Regions from separate parts of the Homo sapiens genome. Here regions 1 and 3 are each linked to region 2. Evidence: fine-mapped expression QTL. A gene starts in region 2. Each other region holds a variant in brackets. All regions are shown on one strand. Distances are from middle to middle.

Evidence for each region. PIP is the estimated chance that this variant, and not a neighbour inherited with it, causes the effect.
Region 1: its variant is fine-mapped to the expression of RARG in whole blood (TOPMed, PIP 0.91).
Region 3: its variant is fine-mapped to the expression of RARG in whole blood (TOPMed, PIP above 0.99).

What each region holds. Positions count from the first base shown.
Region 1 is chr12:53,152,090-53,154,846 of GRCh38, forward strand. It overlaps the pseudogene EIF4A1P4. Among named protein-coding and RNA genes, the nearest start is that of ZNF740, 27 kb to the right of the region's middle. The variant C/T (reference allele first, on the strand shown) is at 1,603.
Region 2 is chr12:53,231,089-53,233,845 of GRCh38, forward strand. It overlaps RARG (retinoic acid receptor gamma), which reads right to left and starts at 1,121. Exons shown (of 10, transcript NM_000966.6): 1 at 886-1,121; 2 at 81-147. RefSeq lists silencers at 807-936, 1,257-1,306.
Region 3 is chr12:53,210,506-53,213,249 of GRCh38, forward strand. RARG (retinoic acid receptor gamma) reads right to left here. Exons shown (of 10, transcript NM_000966.6): 9 at 2,580-2,738; 10 at 64-1,358. The coding sequence ends at 1,171. Among named protein-coding and RNA genes, the nearest start is that of ITGB7, 4.6 kb to the left of the region's middle. The variant G/A (reference allele first, on the strand shown) is at 1,256.

The DNA.
Region 1 (2,757 bases), 79 kb before region 2:
AGGAGCATGCCACCATGCTGGGCTAACTTATTTATTATTTTTTTTATAGAAACAGGATCTTGCTGTGTTGTCCAGGCTTATTTTGAACTCCTGGAGTCAAGGGATACCTTGACCCACGTCAGCCTCTCAAAGCGTTGGGGTTGCAAGTGTGAGCCACCTTGCCTAGCCTGTACCATGATTTTTTTTTTTTTTTTTTTTTGAGACGGAGTCTCACTCTGTCGCCCAGGCTGGAGTGCAGTGGCATGATCTCAGCTCACTGCAACCTCCGCTTCCAGGGTTCAAGTGATTCTCCTGCCTCAGCCTCCCAAGTAGCTGGGATTACAGGCATGCACCACCACACCTGTCTAAACATGTACCATGATTATTTAAGAGAATATTCTTGTTGTTGAGAAATATGCATTATAGTATTAAGAGATAAAGGGTCATAATATATGCACTGACTCTCACATGATTCAGAAAAAAATGAGTATAATGCATTTAGAGAGAGAATGACAAAGCAAATTTGTCAAAATGTGAGAAATGGATAAATCTGGGTAAAGAATATATAGGAGGTCTCTGTAACTAAGAATAATGACAAGAATGCAACTTTTCTATAAGTTTGAAATTATTTCAGAATAAAAAGGTTTTGACTATAGTCCTCTGCTGTACCAGTTGAGTTATTGAAGGATGCTATAAAAAAGGTTTTTAAAAGGCACATAAACAGAAGAGAAACAGTCAAATGAGGACTAGGGTGTATAAGGACAGTTCCAAGTGGCCAGTTGAATTCTGACTTTAGCTTGTTCTCTTTTATCTACTTTTTTTTTTTTTAGACAGAGTTTCGCACTTGTTGCCCAGACTGGGGTGCAATGGCACGATCTCGGCTCACCACAACCTCCACCTCCCAGGTTCAAGCGATTCTCCTACCTTAGCCTCCCGAGTAGCTGGGATTTATCTACTTTCTTAAAAGGGCTCTTACTCTCAACCTCAGAGAGCTGCTATGACATCATAGGTACCCCATCCAGCTTCTGACCTTCCCAGGTCCCGGCCTTCCTCCCTGTGAAGGGCAACATCTTCCTTCCCCAGTCAAGGGGAGGCTGGTCCCTGGATCCTAGAGACTAGGATACTTTGATTCCTTTTGCTCTTACCGAAACCAAAACCAAAACCAAATGCCAACAAAAAACTATTCTAGAGTTTCTAAGGATCATGTCTGCGAGCCAGGATTCCTGATCCAGAGACAACGGCCCCAATGGGATGGAGCCCAAAGGTGTCATTGAGAGTAACTGGAATGAGATTGTTGACAGCTTTGATGACATGAACCTCTCAGAGTCCCTTCTCCGTGGCATCTACGCCTATGGTTTAGAGAAGCCGTCTGCCATCCAGCAGCGAGCCATTCTACCTTGTATCAAGGGTTATCACGTGATTGCTCAAGCCCAATCTGGGGCTGGGAAAATGGCCACATTTGCCATATTGATTCTGCAGCAGATTGAATTAGATCTAAAAGCCACCCAGGCCTTGCTCCTAGCACCCACTCAAGAATTGGCTCAGCAGATACAGAAGGTGGTCATGGCACTAGGAGACTACATGGGTGCCTCCTGTCATGCCTGTATCAGGGGCACCAACATG[C/T]GTGCTGAGGTGCAGAAACTGCAGACGAAGCTCCTCACATCATTGTGGGTACCCCTGGCCATGTGTTTGATATGCTTAACGGGAGATACCTGTCTCCCAAATACATCAAGATGTTTGTACTGGACGAAGCTGACGAAATGTTAAGCCGTGGATTCAAGGACCAGATCTATGACATATTCCAAAAGCTCAACAGCAACACCCAGGTAGTTTTGCTGTCAGCTGCGATGCCTTCTGATGTGCTTGAGGTGACCAAGAAGTTCATGAGGGACCTCATTCGGATTCTTGTCACGAAGGAAGTGTTGACCTTGGAGGGTATCCGCCAATTCTACATCAATTTGGAACGAGAGGAGTGGAAGCTGGACACACTATGTGACTTGTATGAAACCCTGACCATCACCCCAGGCAGTCATCTTCATCAACACCCGGAGGAAGGTGGACTGGCTCACCGAGAAGATGCATGCTCGAGATTTCACTGTCTTCACCATTCGTGGAGATATGGACCAAAACGAACAAGACGTGATCTTGAGGGAGTTTCGTTATGGCTCTAGCAGTTTTGATTACCACTGACCTGCTGGCCAGAGGCATTGATGTGCAACAGGTTTCTTTAGTCACCAACTATGACCTTCCCACCAACAGGGAAAACCATATCCATAGAATCGGTCGAGGTGGACGGTTTGGCCGTAAAGGTGTGGCTATTAACGTGGTGACAGAAGAAGACAAGAGGACTCTTCGAGACATCGAGATCTTCTACAACTCCTCCATTGAGGAAATGCCCCTCAATGTTGCTGACCTCATCTGAGGGGCTGTCCTGCCACCCAGCCCCAGCCAGGGCTCTATCTCGGGGGGCTGAGGAGCAGCAGGAGTGGGGAGGGAAGGGAGCCAAGGGATGGACATCTTGTCATTTTTTTCTTTGAATAAATGTCACTTTTTGAGGCAAAAACAAAACAAAACAAAACACTCTAACATTGCAACCCACTCAGGCGTTTCCAATGCCTTTATTTTCCTATTTGAGGGAAATATCATTTCCCCAGGCCAAGGGCAAGATGGGTGACTAAACCTGGAAATGGCCTCAACCTTCCTGCAAGTAGTAGATCCACAGCACATGGTTAATAATTTATGCTATTAAGGTTAGGCTACTAAGGCTATTAAGGTGTA
Region 2 (2,757 bases):
CATCTCAGTTTCTTGCCCTGAAGACCTCCTACTCAGGCTCCCCTGCCCCCACCACCACTAACAACCAAGCATCTTCTTACCCGCTGGCCGCCTGCAGAGACTGGCTTCTACATACTGGGTCAGGTTGAGGGAACTGGGCCGTAGCTGCTAAAGACAGAGAGGCAGCGTCAGTGGAACTCTGGGACCAGCACTCCTGGGTCCCTGTCCCGGTCTTCCTGCTCTTTCTTTGTTCCATTTGGGCTTCCCTCAAGAATACTCCAGAGGTGCCCCCCACCTTGGCTGGAGGGAGCCAAGGCTCGCACCTGGGCTGGGAACGTGTGGGAGGGAATCCAGCGCTTCAAGGAAAGTTCACAGATCCCTATCCTATGCACCAGTCCTTCGGAACTCCTGGACGCGGAGGGCCAGGCTCACTTGCCTCTGGACGTTTTCCTTGCCTTCTGATGTCCAAGCTGTCCCATTCCACTGGGGAGGGAGGAACTTGGACCAGCATGGAACATCAAATCTACCCCTCAGAGCCCGGGGGTAAGGGGGTGGTAGTCTTTCCCCGCGAGAGGAAACCCTGTCTTCTCTCACATTCCCAGCACAAAAATATAAGGAGGAATGCCCCCTGGCTGAAGACTTCCCCAAATGCTGTCCTCTGCTATGCACCAAAATGAAGGGCAGATGACCCAGCCCATCCTCAGCCTGTTAAAATCTTCCCCATTCCCTTCCCACAGCAGGACTGGCCTGGGTCGGGGCAAGAAGCCCCCCTCAAGCCCGGCGGCCAGCCTGGCCAGCCTCGGGAGGGCATTCGCCCGTGCAGCTCCTCCGCGCCCCCTCCCCCAGCCGCCTCGCCGGAGGACCCAGGCGACGGGGCGGGCGAGCCTGCTTCCCCGCCTGACTCACCTGGAGTGGGAGGGGGAAGGGAGGCGGCGGAGCCCCGAGGTCCCGGCGTCGGGCAGTCTCTTGGATGGAGCGTCGCAATGTCCGGGGCTCGCCGTACTGGGGGGCTCCTGGGGGGGCACGGCTCTAGGCTGGGACTGTCCCGGGGCCTCTCGGAGCCCGCCCGCCCACGTGACCGCCCCAAAATATCCGACACATTTTCTCCCAAACCGCACACTGACTCTGCAGGCGGGGACACGGAAAATATTTTCTTTCTTTTTCTCCCTCCCCACCCCCCCCCCAACCTCCCTCCCTGCCCAACTCCCTCCTCCCCCTCCCGCCCTCGCTCCTCCCTCCCCTGCCTGCCCCTGCCCGGCTCCCTCCTCTGTGCCCTGGGGCTGGGGGGCGGAGGGATGGGTGGGCGGGAGGGGGACTGGGCGGGGCGGCCCGGGACGCCTGGGTCTCTGCCCTTCCCATTTGCTAGGCTTCCGTGACTCCATCCTCTGGGAGGCCGGGCACGGCTGGCAGAGGAGGTCAGTGTCCTGGCCCCGTGATGCCAACCTTTTCTCTCTGGCACTTTTCTCCTTTCTGCCTTTTGGGGGGACTAGTTGAGTTGTCTGTGGCCAGGCTGTGACTCTTGCGAGGCCAGTCTCTGGCGCCTCCCCAGGGTAGGCAATGGGGCGGTACCCACTCCCTCCCAGTGCTGGATTGGCCGGGCAGGAGTATGCCAGATCTAGAATAGATGCTCCTGCCCTTACTCTTTGCTCAGCCTTCACCTGCAGATCCAAGTAGCCTCTCCCTTCCCCTAGCCCACCTCAGTCCTTTGGTCCCAGGAGCAAACTGGTTGACTAGTGGCTGTTGCTGGGGGTGCTGAGGCCAGGGCTCACAGACATCTTCCCTGTCATCTTGCCTGGAGTAAGCTCCAGGAGTTAGGGCGCCTGGGTCCCTGGCTGCCAGTTGTCCCCCACCTTTAGGCCTGGATTTGGAAGGGGAGAGGCTGGAGAGGAGGGCAGGAGGAACTGTGGCTGGGAGTGGGAGGAGCCTTGGGCTGGGTGTGAGAGAGAAAGCCCAGGCAGAGGGTGTGTGTCTGCCCTAGCCAGCACCGGCCTGCCTGCCTGCCTGCCTGGTAGATGTGCCATGAATGCTGTTGACTCCGGGTGTGTGTGTGTGTGCGTGTGTGTGTGTGTGTGTCTGTGCAAGCGCGTGCGCATGCCAGTGCCGAGAGTGAGTGTCTGTGTCTGATGGGGGCATTATCTGCTTCAACATAGACAGACTCTCAACCCTAGAGTGAGAGAACCCAGTGGTTTCACTCTGCATTCTACTGAGGACAGAGGGAGAGAAAAGAATGGGTCTGCAGTCCAAGCTCTGTGCACGGATCCCAAACACTCCCATGGGGACTGGAGTTGGGAGGGAGAAAGAGGAGAAGGGGAGAGTCTGAGCTAGGCTGATAGGCTGGACAGACATACCCAAAGTACCTTCCCCAGCAATGCTCGCAGGGTGACCAGGACCTGGGACACAGACTCCTGGGTCACGTCACATTTTCCATACTGGAATTACTTGGCTTTGTCCTTGCTCCCCCCTGGGGGCCAGGTGTCCTCCCTCCTGGGAAAGGCTGCTTTTGGTAGCCAAAGTCAGGTGAAGGAGATGGGGGAAAGAAGAGGCATGCTGTGGTTACCTCAGGGAATGGGAGATGGCAATGGGGGTGCAGACAAGCCCTCTCTTTCACTCCAGGGATAGGAAGAGCTAGGAATAGATACTCCAGGGTCCCGTCCCCAGGTGGCCTAGCTGCTGTTGACTTTGCTTGGTTACCCTGGGAGCAGCTCTCAGCAGTGTGGGAGGGGCGGGTGTCAGGGAGTTGGACCCAGGCGTCCAGGCTGGGGTGGGATGGCGCCCCGC
Region 3 (2,744 bases), 21 kb before region 2:
TCAGCTCCCTCACCAGGTCAGCTGGTCATTTCCCTACCACCTCCTAAAGGGAGCCACATCTCATGAGTTTCCATCACTTTATTTTGCAAAAATAGAAAACTCAGCAATATGCGATACAGCGGGGTAGAGGGGAGATGTAAACAGAGGGGAGGGGACAGCACCCTGACCCCCCAAGAGAACACAGGGAGCCAATGGGAATCTTATTTGGCAGCTAAATACAAACTGGGGATTGGAGGAAGAAAGGAGGGGTCACAGGGGCCCTGGGCTCCCCCACCCAAGACCCCTGGAGGAAGGGGTCAATTCCACGGTGTAAACAAAAGCTAATAAATAAATAGAGGCTTCCTCTGGGTCAGGGCGGGATCAGCTAAGCAGCATCCCCCCTCCCTGGGCCAAGCTGCTCTGGGGAGTAAAGGGTGGAAGGCACTAGGGAGAGAGGGATCCCCTGGCCCCTCTGTAGTGTAGGAGGGTCCCTGCCCCAATGGCTGAGATGGAGGGCAGGAGGAGCCCAAGGCACATGACAGGGCTGGGGGAGGGACTTATAACGGAGGGCACAGGGTGAACTCTGCACCCGAGCCAAGAGGTGCAGAATGGACCTGCATCTATCTGTCCCTTTCACCCTCTGTTCCTGCCCCAGAAATGCAGGGCCCAGCCTGCCCCCACCTTGACCTGGCACAAGGACGGGGCACAGAGGCTAGCACACACCCTGCAGGTGCATCACACAGCATTAGGCACCAAGGGTAGGAGCAAGAAGGTGGGCTCAGCCCTTCTCCTTTGTCCCCTTTTTGGTCTCTAGTGTTCCTGTTTGCTCTCAGAGAGCCAAGCACCTGGCAGAGGAAGGGGCTGTGGAATGGCAGGGTCTTCCTCTTGCCCTGGGAAGTCTAGGACCCATGGGGCAGTGCTGAGATTTTAGAGTCCAAACCCAGGCTCATCCCTTTGCCCTCTCTCCTGGTGGGAGCAGGGCAGGCCCCCGGGACTGGCGAGGGAGCCGGTTAGATCAGGAAGGGGATGAACACAGAGGCACCCCTAGAAACTTTGGCAAAAACAAGGAGCTCATTGGAAGGGGTGGGGAGAGGGCAGAGCAGGTCCTCCCCCAGTCACTGGCGGTCTGGGAGATGGTCAGTCTGCTGCCTGAAGCCCCAACCCCCACAGCGGGGAGGTCAGGGGCCCTGGTCAGGCTGGGGACTTCAGGCCCCCTTTGCCCTGGCCCCCAGGAACCTCATCCTCGCTAGAGGCATTGGGGTGGGGACCAGGCTGC[G/A]AGGAGTCATCCTCAAACATTTCAGGGTTCTCCAGCATCTCTCGGATTAAGGGAGGCATCGGGCCTGGAATCTCCATCTTCAGAGTAATGGCCCTTTCAGCTCCTACAATGGAGAGAGAAAGAGAGAGGCTCAGGAGGACAGAGGCACATGGCCCTTAAGGCCATCTCCCTAACCTTTCTCAACTGCCCCTGACTCCCCTAGGGGGCGCCCAGCACAGGCCCACCACCTCTCCGTCCCCAGCTCATCCTCTTCTCACTAGGCTTCCTGGGTGCCACTCCTCTGCCTGGAACCTCTACCTGGCCTTCTCTACCAGGCTTGCTGCCCATTCATCCCATTCTTTCAGGCTGTCTCTTCAGCGAGCGCAATGCACACAACTTCCAACCCCACTCCCCAAGTACCCCACTCTCGAATGTCCAGAGCTTGTCACTTGTTCCTAGTCCTGTTCTCTTAATAACATTTATTACCACAGCTAATATTTATCAAACACTATGTTCCAGACATCCTTCTAAGCCTGGACTGTCCAATAGAACTTTGCAATGATAGGAATACAGTAGTCATTGGCCACATGTGGCAATCTGAAATGTGACTACTGCAACTGCAGAATGGAATTTTTAATTCAGCACAATTCTAAGTACACTGTATATGTTACAGGTTTTTTTTGTTGTGTTGTTGTTGTTGTTGTTGTTTTAGAGGCAGGGTCTTGCTGGGTTACCCAGGCTGGACTGCAGTGGCTATTCACAGGTACAATCATAGCTCACTGCAGCTTCCAACTTCTGGCCTCAACTGATCTTTCTGCCTCAGCCTCCTGAGTAGCTGGAACTACAGATGTGCACCATGGTGCCTGGCTTTACATTGTATATTAACTAATTTAGTCCTCAAGACAGCGTTACAAGGTACGTGAAGAATAGCCCAGTTTACAAACAAGATTAAAAAAGTAAAGCAATTTGCCCAAGACTTTGTCTCTAAATATATATATACACACACACACACACACACACACACACACACACACACACACATACTTGGAATTGTGCTGAATTAAAAATTCAATTCTGCAGTTGCAGTAGTCACATTTCAGATGCTTAATAGCCACATGTGGCTAATGACTATTGTATTCCCATCATTGCAGAAAGTTCTACTGGACAGTACTGGTTTAGAAGCAATTTGCCCAAAGTCTCCCACTACTATGTGGCAGAGCTAGGATTCCAGTGTAGATTGCCTGGTTCTCAACTACTCTGTTCTTGTCTCTGTGTGTCCTCCTGTCCGACCTGGGAGACCAACAGCCCTGGGAAGACAGAGAGGGGACACCCACTCATGACTCACCCTTAGTGCTGATGCCCCGGAGGTCGGTGATTTTCATTAGCATCCTTGGGAACATGTAGGGCTGGCTGGGCCGCCGGCGCCGGGCGTACAGCCTCAGGGCTTCCAGCAGTGGCTCCTGCAGCTTGTCCACTTTTTCGGGCTCCTCCAGGTCCATGCGGTCTATGG